Linked DNA regions of Homo sapiens: all the other regions are linked to region 1. Evidence: fine-mapped expression QTL. A gene starts in region 1. Each other region holds a variant in brackets. All regions are shown on one strand. Distances are between the middles of the regions. Region 1 holds the start of ZFYVE1 (zinc finger FYVE-type containing 1). Region 2 overlaps DCAF4 (DDB1 and CUL4 associated factor 4). Region 3 holds the start of RBM25 (RNA binding motif protein 25).

What was found. PIP is the estimated chance that this variant, and not a neighbour inherited with it, causes the effect.
Region 2: its variant is the best candidate, but not a certain one, in a credible set for the expression of ZFYVE1 in nasal epithelium (TOPMed, PIP 0.59).
Region 3: its variant is the best candidate, but not a certain one, in a credible set for the expression of ZFYVE1 in skeletal muscle (FUSION, PIP 0.59).

The regions. Positions count from the first base shown.
Region 1 is chr14:73,023,972-73,030,524 of GRCh38, reverse strand. ZFYVE1 (zinc finger FYVE-type containing 1) reads left to right here and starts at 3,419. Exons shown (of 12, transcript NM_021260.4): 1 at 3,419-3,599; 2 at 5,583-6,499. The coding sequence starts at 6,017. RefSeq lists an enhancer at 3,077-3,276 and a silencer at 3,507-3,716.
Region 2 is chr14:72,932,874-72,939,426 of GRCh38, reverse strand. It overlaps DCAF4 (DDB1 and CUL4 associated factor 4), which reads right to left. Exons shown (of 14, transcript NM_015604.4): 2 at 1,357-1,456. The coding sequence starts at 1,448. Among named protein-coding and RNA genes, the nearest start is that of DCAF4, 9.7 kb to the right of the region's middle. RefSeq lists an enhancer at 1-4. The variant G/C (reference allele first, on the strand shown) is at 3,202.
Region 3 is chr14:73,053,175-73,059,727 of GRCh38, reverse strand. RBM25 (RNA binding motif protein 25) reads right to left here and starts at 1,194. Exons shown (of 19, transcript NM_021239.3): 1 at 1,023-1,194. It overlaps RBM25-AS1 (RBM25 antisense RNA 1), which reads left to right and starts at 275. Exons shown (of 2, transcript NR_184256.1): 1 at 275-452; 2 at 971-2,898. RefSeq lists enhancers at 1,090-1,629, 682-1,881, 953-1,917. The variant AGAAAT/T (reference allele first, on the strand shown) is at 2,575.

The DNA.
Region 1 (6,553 bases):
TGTCACCCAGGCTGTAGGGCAGTGGTGCGATCTTGGCTCACTGCAACCTCTGCCTTCTGGGTTCAAGCAATTCCCTGTCTCAGCCTCCTGAGTAGCTGGGATTACAGGCGCCCGCCACCAGGCCCGGCTAATTTTTGTATTTTTAGTAGAGCCAGGGTTTTGCCATCTTGGCCAGGCTGGTCTTGAACTCTTGACCTCGTGATCCACCTGCCTCGGCCTCCCAAAGTGCTGGGATTACGGGCATGAGCCACTGCGCCCGGCCCTAGAAGTTGTTTTTAGAAAACAATTTCTCAGCCATGTTTCATAATCCAACCATTGGCTCTCTGCCCAATATTGAAAATATAATTTTCAGCAATTTAATCCTCATATATGGGTCATTATTATGTAGATTTGATTTTGCTAGTGGTTTACTTATGTCCCTGGAATCATAAGGTAAAAAGTATTGGACTTCAAGTCAGCAGATACAGTCTTGTCCCAGATTTGTCAATAATTTGTTGTGTAACCCTGGCAAGTCACTTAATCTTAGTTTTCTCTTCTGGGTTAACAATTATCAAGATAGAATCATAGTATGTTGGAATTGGCAGGGACTTCATTAATTACAATTTCTATTTTGTGGAGAGGTTGAGTGACTTACCCAACCACCTGTATAGTCAGGACGTTTTCTTTCTTTCTTTCTTTTTTTTTTTTTTGAGATGGAGTCTCTCACTCTGTCACCCAGGCTGGAGTGCAATGGCACGATCTCGGCTCACTGCAACCTCCAACCCCCGGGTTCAAGTGATTCTCTTGTCTCAGTCCCTCTAGTTGCTGGGATTACAGGTGCACGCCGCCATGCCTGGCTAATTTTTTGTGTGTGTGTGTGTTTTAGTAGAGATGGGTTTTTACCATGTTGCCCAGGCTGGTCTTGAACTCCTGAGCTCAGGCAATCCACCCGCCTCAGCCTCCCAAAGTGTTAGGATTACAGGCGTGAGCCACTGCGCCCAGCCTCTTTTTTTTTTTTTTTTTTTTTTGAGATGGAGTTTTGCTCCATTGCCCAGGCTGGAGTGCAGTGGCACAATCTTGGCTCACTGGAACCTCTGCCTCTGGGGTTCAAGTGATTTTCCTGCCTCAGCCTCCAGAGTAGCTGGGATTACAGGCACATGCCACCATTCCCAGCTAATTTTTTGTATTTTTAGTATAGTCATGGTTTCACCATGTTGGCCAGGACCTCAAGTGCTCTGCGTGCCTTGGCCTCCCAAAGTGTTGAGATTACACACAGGAACAACCACACCAGGCCTTCAGGAGCTTTTCTAGAGCAAGCAGTCAATCTTTGGCAACACAGACTCAGGCTTTCTTTCAATGTTGTTTCAAGAAACAAACAAAAAGTGAAAGCACTAAACAAATATAAGGCCATAAAAAAAGAAAAAAAAGCCTGATAAATGTTAACCATTAGCCTGCACTGTAGCCTGAAAACTTATCTGAAAATTTAGCCCATCTAACGCAAAGAAAATTTCTTTCTTTTTTTTTTTTTCTTGTTTGAGACAGAGTCTTGCACTGTTGCCCAGGCTGGAGTGCAATGGTGCGATCTTGGCTCACTGCAACCTCTGCCTCCCGGGTTCATGTGATTCTCCTGCCTCAGCCTCCCGAGTAGCTGGGATTACAGGTGCACACCACCACACCCAGCTAATGTTTTGTATTTTTAGTAGAGATGAGGTTTCACTATGTTGGCCATGCTGGTCTTGAACTCCTGAGCTCATGATCCGCTCTCCTTGGCCTCCCAAAGTGCTGGGATTACAGGCATGAGCCACCGTGCCTGGCCCTCAAAGATAATTTCAAATTGAGAAGTTCTGAAAGTATAATAGCTTTTTTTTTTTTTTTTTTTTGAGACAGAGTTTCCCTCTTGTTGCCCAGGCTGGAGTGCCATGGCGTGATCTCGGCTTACTGCAACCTCTGCCTCCCAGGTTCAAGCAATTCTCCTGCCTCAGCCTACCGAGTAGCTGGGATTACAGGCATGCATCATCACGCCCGGCTAATTTTGTATCTGTTAGTAGAGATGGAGTTTCTCCATGTTGGTCAGGCTGGTCTCGAACGCCCGACCTCAGGTGATCCGTCCACCTCGACCTCCCAAAGTGCTGGGATTACAGGCATGCGCTACCGCGCCCAGCCTGAGAAGTTCTGAAACTATAGAAGGAAAGATCAGAAAAATAATAGGTAGGAAAAAAAATTCATGGTTGGCTTGGAGAATACCCTTGAAGGGTGTTAAGTAAAAATGATAGGAGGCCTTTGTTTTGGACTAAACTCCTGCACCAGGCCCCAATAGACCTGGCTAAAATAAAAATGGAGTCACCCATGCTAAAGTTTCACCTCACCAAATCCAAACTAAGTTGTTACCAAACCCAAGCTAAGTTGTTATCTGACCTTCAGAGAAATCAGGAAAGAGGGATAAGGACAGCCAGTTTCCCAAACAGGCTTGTTTTAATGTTGCATGATAATGAAGCTCCCTCTGTTGTAATCCTTACACAAAAGAAGTAGCCTGAAGTAACTGATGTCAACTAATCAGTTATTTTTCTATTGTTCTGTCTCTCTGTCCTCACCTTCCAAGGAAAGTAGCTTAGAAGTGACCAATATGTCAAGGTCCCATGAGAAGACTGAAAAAAAGAGAAGAAAGAGGAAAGAAAAGAATGACAAGAAAGAGAAAGAAAGAAACCAATATGCTCTTTGTTCTTTGCTTTTGCTTCCTCAAGCTTTTCTCTGTCTACAAAGCCAACCTCTCCTGCTCAGCTCATCAGAACATTCACTCCACTTTCTGGAATGAAGTGTTGCCTGATCCTAGAGTCGCAATAAAGCCAACTGAGATCTTAAAACTAAATTCGTTGTAATTTTGTCCTTTGCCAAGGGGGGAAAAACAACAAAAACTTCCCAAGAGTACCTATATCCTCTTATCACTTTTTCTGGTCTTTTCCTTAGTTTTTGCGAAGTGAAATTGGGAAGGTGGAGACTGTCTGTGCTCACACGTTTCTGAGGGAATGGTGTGCAAGAGGTTACTTGAATCCAAATTAATTGACTCACCATTTCCCACTTATACTAGACATTATTACATCAGTTCTCTAATGTAGCACCATGCCTTCCCCAGTTACAACCCAAAAGAACGTGCTGAAACCTGCGGACACCACACTCAATGCAAAAACTCCAAGTCCCGAAATCCTCCGTAGCCTGTCCCCACCGCCTCCTCGCAAGAGCAGCCTCTTCAGTACTGGGAGTTGTAGTCATTCAGAGTCTTCCTTTCCGGGATGAGGGGCGAGAGCGCGCCTCGAGGAGCTACATCTCCCAGGAGGCAGTGCGCACTACGCCCTTGCTGGCGCCGGGATCCTCCCTCTCTCGCTCCTCCCTTTCTGGGCTGCACCGCTCACGCCTTCCTGTTAGTCCGAGCTGGGAGAAGTTCACTCCGATCAGCTGATCCCAACTGACAACAGGAGAGGAGGAAGCCCGGGAGGCAACGAAGGAGGAGGGTGGCGGAGATGGAGATGAGGATGGATCTGCCGGTGTCCTGAGGAATAGCCTCTGCCCCCACTGGCGCCCTGCGGCCCCCCGACGCCGCCTTGCTGCGGCCGAGCTTCTCAGTGGTGGGATCCCCGGGCCGCGGCGGGCAGGGCAGGGCGGGGAGGGCACGGCCCAGCGCGGGGCGAGTGATCGTCCTGGGGCTCAGGCTGCCCTCGGGAGGAAGGGGGGGCGGGTGCGGCGGGGGTGGGGGTGGGGTGGTATAAACAATGGATTCGGCTCCGGGTTTTGCCGGCGTGGGGGGGATTTTGGGGGACCTTCTTTGTTCTTAGGCTCCGCTCCTGCCCCTCGGGTTGTGGCGGTGGTGTCCGGGTGGAAGGAAGGGTGAGGAACCCCCGGCTGGGGAGAGGTGTCGAGGTGGGGGCCCGAGTGGGCAAAATGTTTGGTTGACATGGCCGGGCGTGAGGTGTACTTTTGAAGGTTGATTTTATATTTTTCTCAATTGTGACAAGTTTGATTTTTGTTTCTGTTTTGGGAGCTGGCTGGGCATGTCTGAGGTTAGATTGTAGTAAATAAGATCCCCTAGTCACTCCCTTCGCCTTCCTTGTTTATCTGAAAATAAGGTTGATAGATTGATTACTGTAGGGGAGGAGTGACTATCAGAAAGGCAGGGCTTTACACCTTGTCGGGGCCTTGGAATGCGGGTCAAGGCTAGGGGGAATTAGGAATATAATTGTCAAAGTGACAAAAGCCCCTTTCTTGCCCCAGTTATCTTTTTTCGTATTTTGAAGTTATTTTTAAGTTAGTTTTTAAGTGACAAAGAGAAAAATTATTTGTTTTGATTCACTGCAGGCCTGGCTTTGCCATGGGTCAAAGTAGAGGAATTGTCTCCTGTTGCTCCTTTTTTTTTTTTTTTTCAGTTAGTGAAAGAAGGGACAGAAGAATTACAGTGTAAAAAAATTGTTTTTAAAGATGAAATTGTTACTATTGTTTCTAAGTTTTGAGTCTTTAATATACATCTAGCTAGAGTTGAAACAATCCAGTTACAAGGCTAACCAGGTCGGCCCAGGTATTTGATAGATCTAAAGTTTATTATTACATTTTCATTAGCTTTGTGAAGGCCTCTCCACTCCTCCCAATTGTGGGATGCATGTGGGGGTGCAGAGGGCTGTCCTTCCAAGGACTACTCACTTAGTGATTTAGATTCTGAATTTAATATCTGAATGAACAGAAAATTCCAGTCTGGGAAATAGAGCAGCAAAGTCTCTTAAATGCCTTGGGCCTAGAGGTGGCGTTTGTTGTCAAGAGGAGGAGCTTTAGCCACAATTTTGAGATTTTTTTTTTTTTTTTTTTTTTTGAGGGAGTCTTGCCCTGTCTTCCAGGCTGGAGTGCAGTGGCAAGATCTTGGCTCACTGCAACCTCCGCCTCCTGGGTTCAAGTGATTCTCCTGCCTCAGCCTCCCTAGTAGCTTGGATTACACGTGCCTGCCACCATGCCCAGCTAATATTTGTATTTTTAGTAGAGATGGGATTTCACCATGTTGGACAGGGTAGTCTCGAACTCCTGACCTCAAGTGATCTGCCCACCTCGGCCTCCCAAAGTGATGGAATTACAGGTGTGAGCCACTGCGCCTGGCTATACAACAAGCCAGTGTAAGTGTTAAGATAGAAAATGAGATTTCTGGCCAGGTGCGGTGACTCACGCCTGTAATCCCAGCACTTTGGGAGGCCAAGGCGGGCAGATCACCTGGGGTCAAGAGTTCAAGACCAGCCTGGCCAACATGGTGAAACCCCGTCTCTACTAAAAATACAAAAATTAGCTGGGCATTGTGGCTAGCGCGTGTAATCCCAGCTCCTTGGGAGGCTGAGGCAGGAGAATCGCTTGAACCCGGGAGGCGGAGGTTGCAGTGAGCCGAGACTGTCCCATTGCACTCCAGCTTGGGCAGCAAGAGCAAAACTCTGTCTCAAAAAAAAAAAAAAGAAAAAAAAGAGGAATGAGATTTCTCTCAGCAGTTCTGGGCTAATATTTAATTTAGTCAAAAAAAATTTTTTTAAAGGTGCACTTCTGTTTTTTAGATGAGTGAAATCCTTTTCCTTCCTCTATTCTAGGTATCCCCTGAAATACTGACTTCAGGTCGAATTATATTGAAAAGCTCCTGACCACTTTCTTTCATTACCAAAACTTTGTAGCTGATGTCCAACCGATGAACCCACCACCGTGAACCCATCAGACCTCTCTCAGATAGCCATAAAAGACCCTTCCAAGTCAATTTTGACCACATCTTTGCTTGCACTTTATGGAGGATGAAACCATCAAACCAAATCAACGTTGCTGCTAATACAAGAGTCTTAGAGGCAGCAAATTAAAAATTTGAACATTTGTTTGTGAAGAACTATAACAGGACATGAAAGGTGTTCTTTTTTAAAGTGTTCAGAACCCTGTGGAAGTTTCGTGCAGTCTTCAGACTCAAATCTTCGTCTTCACCCCCGGGGCAAGCTCAGTGACTATTATATGGTGGGTGTGTTTCCTTACCAGCGTGAGTATGAGTGCCCAGACTTCCCCAGCAGAGAAGGGCCTGAATCCGGGGCTGATGTGCCAGGAAAGTTACGCTTGCAGCGGGACTGATGAAGCTATCTTTGAGTGTGATGAGTGCTGCAGTCTGCAGTGTCTCCGCTGCGAGGAGGAGCTCCATCGGCAGGAGCGCCTGAGAAACCATGAGCGGATAAGACTCAAACCTGGCCATGTCCCTTACTGTGACCTCTGCAAGGGTCTCAGTGGGCATTTACCAGGTGTTAGGCAGAGGGCAATAGTGAGGTGCCAGACCTGCAAAATTAACTTGTGCCTGGAGTGCCAGAAGAGGACTCATTCTGGGGGTAACAAAAGGAGACACCCTGTTACTGTGTACAATGTCAGTAATCTCCAGGAGTCACTGGAGGCAGAAGAGATGGATGAGGAGACCAAGAGGAAGAAGATGACTGAGAAGGTTGTGAGTTTCCTCCTAGTAGACGAAAATGAAGAAATTCAGGTAAGCACACGGGTATAGTGGGATTCATGTGTAGTGGAGCAGATCTGTTGTTGG
Region 2 (6,553 bases), 91 kb after region 1:
TTCATTCTTTATTGGATTCAGTAGCACAAAGAGTTTAAATTTTACTTGACTACACAATCTTACAGACAGAGAAACTGGGGTTTGGGGGACAGAGGTGATTAGTTCAGTAACACTGGGATAGAGCTGCGGCTAAAACACTTGATTTGTAAATCCACAAGTAGCTTCTGAGGGAATTATAGGCTGAAGGATGTAGTAAAGGTGTGTGCCACCACACCCAGATAATTTTTATATTTTTAGTAGAGACGGAGTTTCGCCGTGTTGGCCAGACTGGTCTCAAACTCCTGACCTCAAGTGATCCGGCTGCCTTGGTCTCCCAAAGTGCTGGGATTACAGGCGTCAGCCACCACACCCGGCCCAGCCAACTTTATTTTAAAAATACATTTAATGTAGCCTTGGCCTGGGTGGTGGTTCAAGTCTGTAATCCCAGCACTTTGGGAGGCTGAGGCAGAAGGATCACTTGAGCTCAGGAGTTTGAGACCAGCCTGAGCAACAGAGTGAGACCTCATCTCTTAAATAAATAAATAAATGTAATGTAGCCTGGTGTACAGGGTTTTAAAGTCTACACTAGCATACAGTAATGTCCTAAGCCTTTGTGTTCACTCATCACTCACTCACTGACTTCCAGTCCCGCAAGCTCTGTTCACAGGAGTGTCATACATAGGTATACCATTTAAAAAAAAATCTTATATACCCTATTTTTACTGTATCTTTTCTATGTTGAGATACACAAATACCACTGTGTACTGACTGCCTCTAGCATTCAGTAGTCACATGCTGTACAGGTTTGCAGCCTCGGAGCAATTGGCTACACCATATAGCTTAGGTGTGTGTGGCTGGCTGTACCATGTAGGTTTGTGTTACGTATGTGCTATGATGTTTGCATGACACGACTGCCTAACAACATATTCCTCAGAATGCATTCCTCCTTGTTAAGCGAAGCATGAGTGTATATCCTTGTCCGAGACTTAGGCTGAATTAATAAAATTTGGTTTCCACAAAGGTATTTGCATAAAAAGTCTACAAAATGGAGAAACGGTTTTCCAGTTGTTTCAGATAACGTCTACCTCTAGCTTTATGGCGAATGCTCTGGCCAGAGGTCGTGGTCACTTAGGAAAGAACAGAGAGTGGTCCTCTCTCCTCACTACTCAGTGAGGTGGGCTGACCCACCAAAGCGACATGCCCTGGGAGCACGTTAGGAAGGCAGGCTCTCCTCAAGACCCCTCAGACCTACAGAATCAGAACCTGCATTGGGACGAGCCCCCAGGTGATCTCCACACCTGTGATCGTGTGACATGCCATGTGTACAATGCCAGAAGCACACTGGGCAAAAGTGGCTCCCCAGAGCGGCACACTTGCCTGTCTTCAGAATCACGGAGTCTGAACCAAGGGTTCTGCTGGTGGCTTCTTCTCCCATGTCGTCTTCTACTCTGCCAGCGACTTTTATTCATTTCTGTTCCTAAAAGAGAAAAACAAAAAAATCCATACATCTCTGTGTGTGGGCATGGGCTTTTCTGTTTGCTTCTTGGCAGCTGCTTCATGCTCAGCACCAGCAAAAGGCTGGCCCACCCTGGGTTATCATCAGATTTGCCACAGCAAGCCTTACCTGGGAAGGGCTGCCTCCAGCACTCCCCCAACATCCTTCCCACTTCCTTCCTGTTACCCTTAGTCGACCACATAGTTTCCTACCCCACAGAAACGTTGCCAGGTCGGCCAGGCGCGGTGGCTCATGCCTGTAATCCCAGCACTTTGGGAGGCCGAGGCAGGCGGATCACGAGGTCAGGAGTTCGAGACCAGCCTGACCAACATGGTGAAACCCCATCTCTACTAAAAATACAAAAATTAGCCGGGAGTTGTAACGTGCACCTGTAATCCCAGCTACTCAGGAGGCTGAGTCAGGAGAATCGCTTGAACCCGGGAGGTGGAGTTTACAGTGAGCTGAGATTGTGCTCACTGTAAACTGCACTCTAGCCTGGGCGACAGAGCAAGACACCATCTCAAAAAAAAAAAAAAAAAAAAGAAAAGAAAAATTGCCAGGCATGAAACCCCTAACTTCACTCCCTTCTGCTCCACAAATACCTGCCTTTACTAATTGTCTTCTTCCTTGTCTTGGACAACAGGTATCACTGCTCCTTTTCAAGGGAGACCCATCCCACCTGGCTGTTGATTTCATTCCTTCCCAGGAACTGCAGACATCTATCTGTTCCCCCATATGTTAATGTCTCCTTCTCCTTATCTCAGCTTTTAAAAACATGCCCAGGTTTTTCATTTGTAAGTGTTCCATTTCTAATCCAAAAAAATGGGCATATTCTGAAAGAATGGTCTACATCTACGAATTCAATGTCTTCATCTCCCGATATTCCTCAACCCACTGCAGTTGAGCTTCCTCTCTCCTCGCCTTTCTACTAAAATGCTCTTGCTATTGATTACCTACTTGCCAAAGTGAGTGGTCTCTTTTTAGCCCTTATTCCTGCAACATGTGGCACCAGGAGGCTACATTCTTCCTTTGGCTTCTGTAATATCTTTCTCTTGGTTTTCTTCTTGCTAAATAAATCCTTTGCTCATTTCTCCTGGGTCACACACCCTGTATGTGCTTTCCATTGTTCTGTCCTAGATCCTTTTCTTTTCAGACTTAACACCACCTCATCTACCAATGCAGATGCAGCTCCAACCCTAATATCGCTACTGAGCACCAAGTTCCTATGCTGCTTCGTGTCTATCTCCACAGACCCAACAGGTTCAAAAGTGAGTTCATGATTTCTCTCTAACCCCCGATCTGCTCTTTTGCCTGTCTATACCTCTCTTCTCTGAAAGCAATATCCCTGCCCCTGCAGCCCAAATGTGTGTGTATTTTTTTTTTTTTTTTGAGATGGAGTCTCGCTCTGTTGCCCAGGCTGGAGTGCAGTGGCGCCATCTCAGCTCACTGCAACCTCTGCCTCTCGGGTTCAAGCGATTCTCCTGCCTCAGCCTCCCGAGTAGCTGGGACTACAGGCACCTGCCACCACACCCAGCTAATTTTTGTATTTTTAGTAGAGATGGGGTTTCACCATGTTGGCCAGGCTGCTCAAGAACTCCTGGCTTCAAGTGATCTACCTGCCTCGTCCTCCCAAAGTGCTGGGATTACAGGCGTGGGCCACCAAGCCCGGCTCCAAAACTTTTATCTTATTCATTGTCCTAAACAATGGCTCCTGAACACCATGTGTG[G/C]GTTTCCCTATGGATCAGTTATCTTATACCCCAGCTAAAGAATACAGTTGTATTTATTAATAGTTAAGTTACAAGCTGAAAGGGACTGCGCACAGGAAGGGAAGCACGTGTGGCCAGTGTTAAGACTGGTAGGAAAATGGCTGCGTGCAGTAGCTCATGCCTGTAATCCCAGCACTTTTGGGAGGCTGAAGTGGGAGGATCTCTTGAGCCCAGAGTTTGAGACCAGCCTGGGCAATAGAGTGAGACCCCATCTCAAAAAGAGAAAAAGACTGATAGGAAAAATAAACTCTACTGACATAAAGATTATTATTATTACCAACTCTATAAAAAGGTCAAAATTTCTTTAGAGTGCATATTCTGTATATGAAATGATTCTAATTTGTTGAATTATGTAACAATGCATGAATACAGCAAAGAACACACGAACTGGTGAGTCAAAGACTTCAGATCACCCACAGGAGGCAGGACTGTGTCCCACTCACACCATTATTCTCAATAGGGGGCTGCACAATCAGCAGGACGCAGCCGATGATAAAATCACTGGCGAATGCCAATTTGGGCCAGGGAGAGCATGTGTTCACCCCTAACTCATACAGGCACTGCAATCTGGTAAGGGAGCCTGCCAACCTCAAGTAATATAGTTAGCAAGGTCAAGCAAAAATCATTTTAAAGGCCGGATGTGGTGGCTCACGCCTGTAATCCCAACACTTTGGGAGGCCGATGCGGGTGGATCACCTGAGGTCAGGAGTTTGAGATCAGCCTGGCCAACGTGGTGAAACCCCGTCTCTACTAAAAGTACAACAGTTCACTGGGTGTGGTGGCTGGTGCCTGTAATCCCGGTTACTTGGGAGGCTGAGGCAGGAGAATCGTTTGAACCCAGGTGGCGGAGGTTGCAGTGAGCTGAGATTGCACCACCGCACTCCAGCCTGGGCAAAAGGGTGAAACTCCGTCTCAAAAAAAAAAATCATTTAAAAAGTCACATACTAATAGAAGCCTTCCAAATACAGTAAGAGTTTAAAGGCTAGGACAAAGACAGTACCTTTCTAGTACTTTTAAGAAGCCTGTTCAGGGGTGGGGAGTGTGTCTTCTCTAAACACAAACACAGTTCATTCTCTATGGCCGCTTTATAGTCCATGTTTGCACTCATCACTCTGCATGACTGTTTGTTCATACTCCCATCTCATACTGGACGTGAGGTGAATTCTGTAAGGCAAACATCCTACTTTGTTCTTTTTTCTATTCCTAGCATCCATGACCTAGTTGGTGCTTAGTAAATTTTTGCTGAACTGAAGCAAAGCAAAACAAAACCTGTGGCTACTTTACATTTAAGTCCCAGGTAGCTTCTTTCTGCTCTGGGTTATTTCCACTTACTACTCCACACACATTTACAAAGCGCCCACTCCATGTGAGGCACTGGGGAGTGGGCAGAGATAATAAGCTGTGCTACCTGGCTTGGAGGCACCGATTGTTTAATATGGGAGACAGATGCACAGACCAACCCCTGCAGCACAGGATAAGGATGAAGACCCAGGTCTCTCCAGGTGTGGTGGGAGAGAAGGGAGTGACTGCTCCACATGCCTGGGCTGGAGGTGGGGGAGGGAGATAAGTGCAGTCTGAAGAATGAAAATGTCAGGCAAGCCCGGCGTGGTGGTTCACGCCTGTAATCCCAGCACTTTGGCAGACTGAGGTGGGCAGATCACCTGAGGTCAGCAGTTTGAGACCAGCCTGACCAACATGACGAAACCCCAACTCTACTAAAAATACAAAAATTAGGCCGGGTGCAGTGGCTCACACCTGTAATCCCAGCACTTTGGGAGGCCGAGACGGGTGGATCACCTGAGGTTGGGAGTTTGAGACCAGCCTGACCAACATGGAGAAACCCCGTCTCTACTAAAAATACAAAAATTAGCCAGGCATGGTAGTGGGCGCCTGCAATCCCCACTACTTGGGAGGCTGAGGCAGGAGAATCGCTTGAACCCGGGAGGTGGAGGTTGCCGTGAGCCGAGATAGCGCCATTGCACTCCAGCCTTGAGCAACAGAGCGAGACTCCGTCTCAAAAAAAAAAAAAAGAAAATGCCACGTAAGGCAGTGGGGGCGGGGGGCCTGCAGGCTGTTTGGTATGGCCAGAGCCTGAAGTTCAAGAAATGGGGGGGATGAGCCTGCAGAGGCAGACAGGGCATGATCATGAGGACTCTGGGTGTGCGAGGAGTGACATGATTAGAGCTGCTAAGAAAGGGCACCTGAAAGGCAGCGGCATGGGGTGACAAGTAAGAACTGCAGTGGCAAGCCAGGTGAGATGAACTCGCTTACACATTATGGACATGGTACTTGGGATAGCGGAGCCTGGATTTAGATTTAGGCAGCAAATTTCATGGGAGAGGTGGAGAGAGGAGTTGAGAAAGGTTAAGTGAATAACTGGTAGAGTCATGAGCAGGGAGACTAAGAATAAAGGAAGAACACTTTGGGGAGAGGAGAGTAAGTCTGATTTTGAACAAATCAATCTCAAGATGCAGGCAATGGGAAATACGGGTCTGAGAATACAGAGAGAAATTGAGCCTAAAGAGACAGATTTGAAAGTAAACAGGATATGGTGACATGGACTGGGACAAATGGCACCAAAGTGGTAATGGTATACAGTGAGAATTAGAGACTTTTTTTTTTTTTTTTGAGATGGAGTCTTGCTCTGTCACCCAGGCTGGAGTGCAATGGCACAATCTCGGCTCACTGCAACCTCTGCCTCCTGGGTTCAAGCGATTCTTCTGCCTCAGCCTCCCGAATAGCTGGGGCTACAGGCGCATGCCACCATGCCTGGCTCATTTTTGTATTTTTAGTAGAGATGTGGTTTCACCATAATGGCCAGGCTGGTCTCGAACTCCTGACCTTGTGATCTGCCCATCTCGGCCTCCCAAAGTGCTGGGATTACCGCACCTGGCCATTAGAGACAATTTTATCTAGTAATAATATAAAACCCAGTATGCATCACAGTTTGTAGATCAGTGCTTCTTAAGGATTATTTTGCCCACCAGGGGACATCTGGCAATGTCTGGAGACATTTTTGTTTGTCACAGCTCGGGAGAAGGAGGGGTAGGCTGCTACTAGCGCCTAGTGGGTAAAAGCCAGGGATGCTGCTAACCACCCTACAATGCGCAGGGCAGCTTCCACACATTCTTCAGCAAGAATTATCCAGGGCTGGGTGCAGTGGCTGATGCCTATAATCCCAGCTGCTCGGGAAGCCGAGGCAGGAGGATTGCTTGAGCCTAGGAGTTCAAGACCAGCCTGCGCAACATAGCAAGATCCCGTCTCAAACAAACAACATTAAAAAAAAGAAAGAAAGAAAGAAAGAAAAAAAAAT
Region 3 (6,553 bases), 29 kb before region 1:
CCCTTTCAAGTCCTCTGAATGTTTTTGGAAATAGCCTTTAAAAAAATTAAAAGCTCCAAAGACTATACAAAAATTATTTATACATTACTGCCCACGGCCTAATACACAGAGTACTTCACACTAATACAGCAGTAGGGTGCAACAGAGGTCCAATCTCTTCCCTTCTCTTGGCTCCACTCTGCCCAGTATCAAAATGGCATTTCCATGGCAATACAAATCCATATTACATAACCTCCGAAAAATCTTCATAGTCCTACGTCTATTCCGGAAAACCGTATTTAAAAGCAGGATTGACGACCAAAGAAAAATGAGAAAGTAACATTTTAATGTGGAGCTTAGTAATCGCCTAGAATGAATGGCGATATACAGTTTACTGCACCCTCCAATGCGCAAAAGAGGCAGGATGGCAAAATTCATGACTATCTTAAGCAAGCCAGGAGACTGCTAAAAAGGTAGGTATTAGCTCAATTCCAAGGGGGTGGGGCCCAGTTCACTTGGTGGCGGGCTCTAGATGGCCAAAGAGGAAGGGAAAGATATCCGTTGGTGGCCAGCACCTCGCTAAAAAGGGTGGGTAGAGGCTAACTTCAAGGCAACGGCTGGGGCGAGAGTGTCCCAGGCCCGAAAACCTACTGTGGGGCTCCGGTAAGTAAGGGGGCTCAGGGAAGGGCTCCCCTGGGGCAGATCGATCGTTTTGTATCTAACGTGGAGCCCAGGGGGGGCAGAGACGATTCACTCCGCGGCGGAACGTGGAAGGGAAAGGGAAAGTGGGCGACAATGCAAGACGGAAAGCTCAAGCCGTAGGTCTGGCCTCCACCAGCTACGGCTGGGCCCACAGCTTTTCCAGGCCTTAGAGAAGAGAAGAAACCAAGCCTCGTGCCGACCCCTCCCCCACCCCCGCCTCCGCGCTCCCCCTTACCTCTACCCCACCCTGGCGCTTTCGCAGCCACCCCGGCTTTTCCTCCTCCACCAGCTGAGGCACCCGGTCTCCCGGTTTCCACACGCGTTCAGAGACACAAACTCACCCGCCGCTGAGGAAACGGTACTGCCTTCGCGACCTTCTGGGATCCAGGTTACGAGTGCGCTCCACTGGTTCGAGATTTCTGCCCGTCGCTCGCCAGGGAGACTGAGTGCCCAAGCGCCTACTCGCACAGGCCGCAAATACAGCCGCGCTGCGCGGCGAGCTGATGGAGGTCTTCCTCTTGCCCGGCGTGCACTGCGGCCGGGGGCGGGGAGCGCGGAACCATAGAGAAGAACGTATATAGATCGTCTCCGCTGTTGGCTCTGACTCACCAAGCCGAGACGAATAACCATAGAGAAGCAGCGTCTAGCGGTTACTAGAAAGGCCCGAACTGTAAATTATGACCCACCATGTTTGATTGGAGCCGACTGAATCTTACGACTACGGGACGCCATCTTGAGGTCAAGGTTCCGGCTGGGCACGGCGCGAGGAGTGTTAGAGGCTTTCTCACTTTTCGTAGTTTTTCGGGGGGTGGAACCTTGCTTTGTGATTCCTTGAGGTTCGAGGAACTGATAACTGGGCGCGATCTGCAACCTTAGTGTTAAACCCCAAGTGCTGTTATAACAACTACTCGAGATCAACAAATAATTGGCAAAGGCTGTGGAGGTTTTTTGAAAAGCAAAAGCTTATGCGTAGTTGTAGGGCCAAAGAGGTGGCTAGAAGATGTTTGGAAAAACGTGAAAAGTCCTGTAATACTAGTTAACACAGCTTTCGTTCTGTAATCTAAACGTGCTAAAAGAACTTAGCTTAAGTTAATGGAAATGAATAAAATTAATCATAAATGATTACGTTATTCCAATTGTGGACCTTATAGGCAATATCTAGTTACACGCCTTTCTCAACTGCTTGCCTCTAGGAAGGCATAAAACGGATTCAGTATAAAGTTATTGCCTCCCTGAGTTCCTGGTGCTGTGTTAAGTGCTGGAAGTATGAAGGCAAATGGAAGTGAGATTTGTTCCTGTCCTGCAAGAACTGTGAGCCAGGTGAAATAGATGACAAACCATGACCAGCCTAATATAAAATTGAAACATACTACACACTTCCTGCCTGCCTCCCCTACTTAATTTTACTCTAAAGCACTCATAACCATCTATCATAACATACATTTTTCTTGCTGATTTTATGGTCCGTCACTACCCCCACTAGAATGTGAATGTAAGCAATGCATGGATTGCCTGTTTTGTGCAAGAACAGGTCCTGGTACATAGCAAGCGCTCAATAAATATTTGTTGAGTGACAGAAATGATTACCGGCCGGGCGCGGTGGCTCACGCCTGTAACCCCAGCACTTTGGGAGGCCGAGGCGGGTGGATCACCTGAGGTTAGGAGTTCGAGGCCACCCTGGCCAACATGGCAAAACCCCGTCTCTACTGAAAATACAAAAATAAACTAGGCGTGGTGGCAGGCGCCTGTAATCCCAGCTACTCGGGAGGCTGAGGCAGGAGAATCGCTTGAACCCTGGAGGCGGAGGTTGCAGTGAGCCGAGATGGCACCACTGCACTCCAGCCTGGGCAACAAAGTGAGACATTGTCTCAAAAAAAAAGAAAAGAAAAGAAA[AGAAAT/T]GATTAACATATGATGAGTACCAATAGAACACAAAATTTAGTGGGAGCACAAATGAGAAAGTAGCACTAATTACTACCATCTGCAAAATTTACATCCTTCTATACTTCTGCTTGCTAGGTTTCCTTACCATTAACTAAAGTTAATAATACCTTTGGCCGTGCGTGATGACGAGTGCTTGTAGTCCCAGTTACTTGGGAGACGAAATTAACTTATGTATGTTTGTACTTTGTTCAGTAAAGTGCTATTCAAATTTATAGTTTTTATAGTGCTACTCTATAATGCTATTTATTGTTTGTAAATAAAATGAGTTTCTTTTTTTGTTTTGTTTTGTTTTTGTTTTTTGAGGAGGTGTCTCTGTTTCCCAGGCTAGAGTGCAGTGACGTGATCTTGGCTCACTGCAATCTCTGCCTCCCAGTTCAAGCGATTCTTGTGCCTCAGCCTCCCCAGTAGCTGGGATTATAGGCGTGGGTCACCATACCTGGCTAACTTTTGTATTTTTAGTAGAGATGGGGTTTCACCATGTTGGCCAGGTTGATCTCCAACTCCTGACCTCAGGTAATCCGCCCACCTGGACCTCCCAAAGTGCTGGGATCAAAGCTGTGAGCCACCATGGCCGCCCAAGAGTTTGTGCCTATTTACAACAAAAGGCATAAACAGAAATCTCAGATTAATCTGTGTCCCTTTTTATTATTAGAAACATTGTACATGAATTTGTGTTTACTGTGTAATAAAGGGAGCCCTCAGGCAACAATTTGCTAACTTTCCTACCTTAGACAATTTGTTGCTGATGTTCATGCAGCATCCATTCCCCTTGCCTTTAGTAATGAACCCTCCACATTTTTTAAAAGAAACCATCTTGGCCGGGTGCGGTGGCTCACGCCTGTAATCCCAGCACTTTGGGAGGCCGAGGCAGGCAGATCACGAGGTCAAGAGATCAAGACCAGCCTGACCAACATGGTGAAACCCCGCCTCTACTAAAAATACAAAAATTAGCTGGGCTTGGTGATGTGTGCCTGTAGTCCCAGTTACTTGGGAGGCCAAGGCAGGAGAATCGCTTGAACCTGGGAGGCAGAGGTTGCAGTGAGGCGAGATTGCGCCACTGCACTCCAGCCTGGGCAACAGAGCAAGACTCTGTCTAAAAAAAGCCAGGTGCAGTGGCTCACACCTGTAATCCCAGCACTTCAGGAGGCCGAGGCGGGTGGATCACCTGAGGTCAGGAGTTCGAGACCAGCCTGGCCAACATGGCGAAACCCTGTCTCTACTAAAAATAACAAAAATTAGCTGGGCGTGGTGGCAGGCACCTGTAATCCCAGCAGCTCAGGAGGCTGAGGCAGGAAAATCGCTTGAACCCAGCAGGCAGAGGTTGCAGTGAGCCGAGATCGCGCCATTGCACTCCAGCCTGGACAACAAGAGCAAAACTCGGTCTAAAAAAAAAAAAAAGAAAAGAAACCATCCTTCCACTACTCCAGATCCATGTACTTTGGATAGGAAGTCCCAACTCTAACCAGACCCCCTTAGGACACAGGAGTAAACTTACAACCTAATCAAAACCTGATGATTTAGTCACCCCTCCCTTTTTTTTTTTTTTTTTTTTTTGGTACTAGCCACTGTTTAAAGCATTTTGCAAATATCAACTCCTTTAATCCTCATAACAACCCCCTGAAGTAAGAACTATTGTGATACAAATGAAGAAACCAAGGCTTGCAAAAATTAACCTATCAAAGGCTACAAAAATAGTAAGTGAGCCAGTCTGGTTCCTGAGTTCGTGCTCTGGAACATTATACTGCTTCATCCTTTCAGGAATAATCCTAAAAAGAAGGGGAGGGGTCTCTATATTTTTCATTTAAATTGATTTTTTTTTTTCAATTTAAGCTTAGGAGGATTTAAGCTTAGAATAGATGGGGATGAGAATGAAATCACAGAAGAAAGCAGAAGTAAGACAGGGTGAGAGATTTTTGACAATATCAGTTGAGAAAATGGTTCATTCATTCATTTTGTTTGTTTTTTGGTTTGTTATTGCTGTTGTTATTTGAGATAGGGTCTCCCTTTGTTGTCCCGGCTAGAGTGCAGTGGCATGATCACGGCTCACTGCAGCCTCAACTTTCCAGGCTCCAGCGATTCTCCCACCTCAGCCTCCCAAAAGCCAGGATTACACTGAGCCCGGCTGGCTCAGCTACTCCTAAAGCCAGCTGTTCTAGGCTTATCAGTATGTAACCCAATACATTACTTTTCCGAAATCAGTTTGAGTTGAGTTTTCTATTCCTTACACAGAAAGAACTCTAAATGATACACTTATATACCACTTGTAGAGAACAAGCCAAGCCATTCATTTGCGATGCCAGTTATCCTCCTTCTATTTTTTTCTTACAAATCCTTGCTAAGGAAACTGTAGATAATTAATTTGGATATTACATTCTGTGTGCATTTGGACACCATTCTTTTTTTTTTCTTTTTTTTTTTTTTGAGATGGAGTTTTGTTCTCATTGCCCAGGCTGGAATGCAATGGCATGATCTCGGCTCACCGCAACTTCCGCCTCCCAGGTTCAAGCGATTCTCCTGGCATAGCTTCCCAAGTAGCTGGGATTACAGGCACATGCCACCATGCCGAGCTAATTTTGTATTTTTAGTAGAGGTGGGGTTTCTCCATGTTAGCCAGGCCGGTCTCCAACTCCCGACCTCAGGTGATCCACCTGCCACAGCCTCCCAAAATGCTGGGATTACAGGCATGAGCCACCACACCTGGCCTGGACCCTATTCTCATTGGCCACATCTGACCCAACTAAACAGCAGCATACCAGGAAAAATGTTGTTTAGCTGGAACTGAGCAGATCTTCTCAAAAATTGAAACTGGAGCCCAGCACAGTAGCACACACCTGTAGTCTCAATCATGAGGAGAGAGGATTGCTTGTGTGTGTGTGTGTGTTTGCGTGTGTATGCATGGCCATCATTATATATATATATATATATATATATATATATATATACACACACATAAATACATATACATACATAAATATATATATATATACAATGCCATTATATAGTATATAATGGCATAAAATATATAAATATAATACATATAATGCCATTATATATATAATATATGTGAATATATATAATATATATGTGTATATAGAGAGAAGAAGATAGAGAGAGGAAGCACATTAACACAGAATCTAGAGATCAAGGCTGGACTACCCAGCAAGGTGGAGTAACTGAAGTTTACCAAGTTAAGTCAGGACTCTGAAAGGATGTTAAAGTGCTCCCTTGTTAGTAATAGTCCTAGGCTCTTGACAGAAGCAAACATAGTTCCCATGGAGAAAAGAATCCCTAATTTAGGCTTCAGGATTCTGATATCAAATGTGAGCTTAAAATTTAAAAATGCAGGCCAGGCATGATGGCTCACGCCTGTAATCCCAGCGCTCTGGGAGGCTGAGGCGGGTGGATCACCTGAGATCAGGAGTTTGAAACCAGCCTGACCAACATGGAGAAACCCTGTCTCTACTAAAAATACAAAACTTAGCCAGGTGTGGTGGCACTCACCTGTAGTCCCAGCTATTTGGGAGGCTGAGGCAGGAGAATTGCCTGAACCCAGGAGGCGGAGGTTGCAGTGAGCCAAGATGGCACCACTGCACTCCACCCTGGGTGACACAGCGAGACTTAGTCAAAAAAAAAAATTGACCGGGCAATGTGGCTCACACCTGTAATTCCAGCACTTTGGGAGGCTGAGGCAAGCGGATCACCAGAGGTCAGGAGTTTGAGTCCAGCCTGACCAACATGGAGAAATCCCGTCTCTACTAAAAATACAAAAAATTAGCCAAGCATGGTGGTGCATGCCTATAATCCCAGCTACTCAGGAGGTTGAGGCAGGAGAATCGCTTGAACCTGGAAGGTGGAGGGTGTGGTGAGCCAAGATCACAGCATTGCACTCCAGCCTGGGTAACAAGAGTGAAACTCTGTCTTAAAAAAAAAA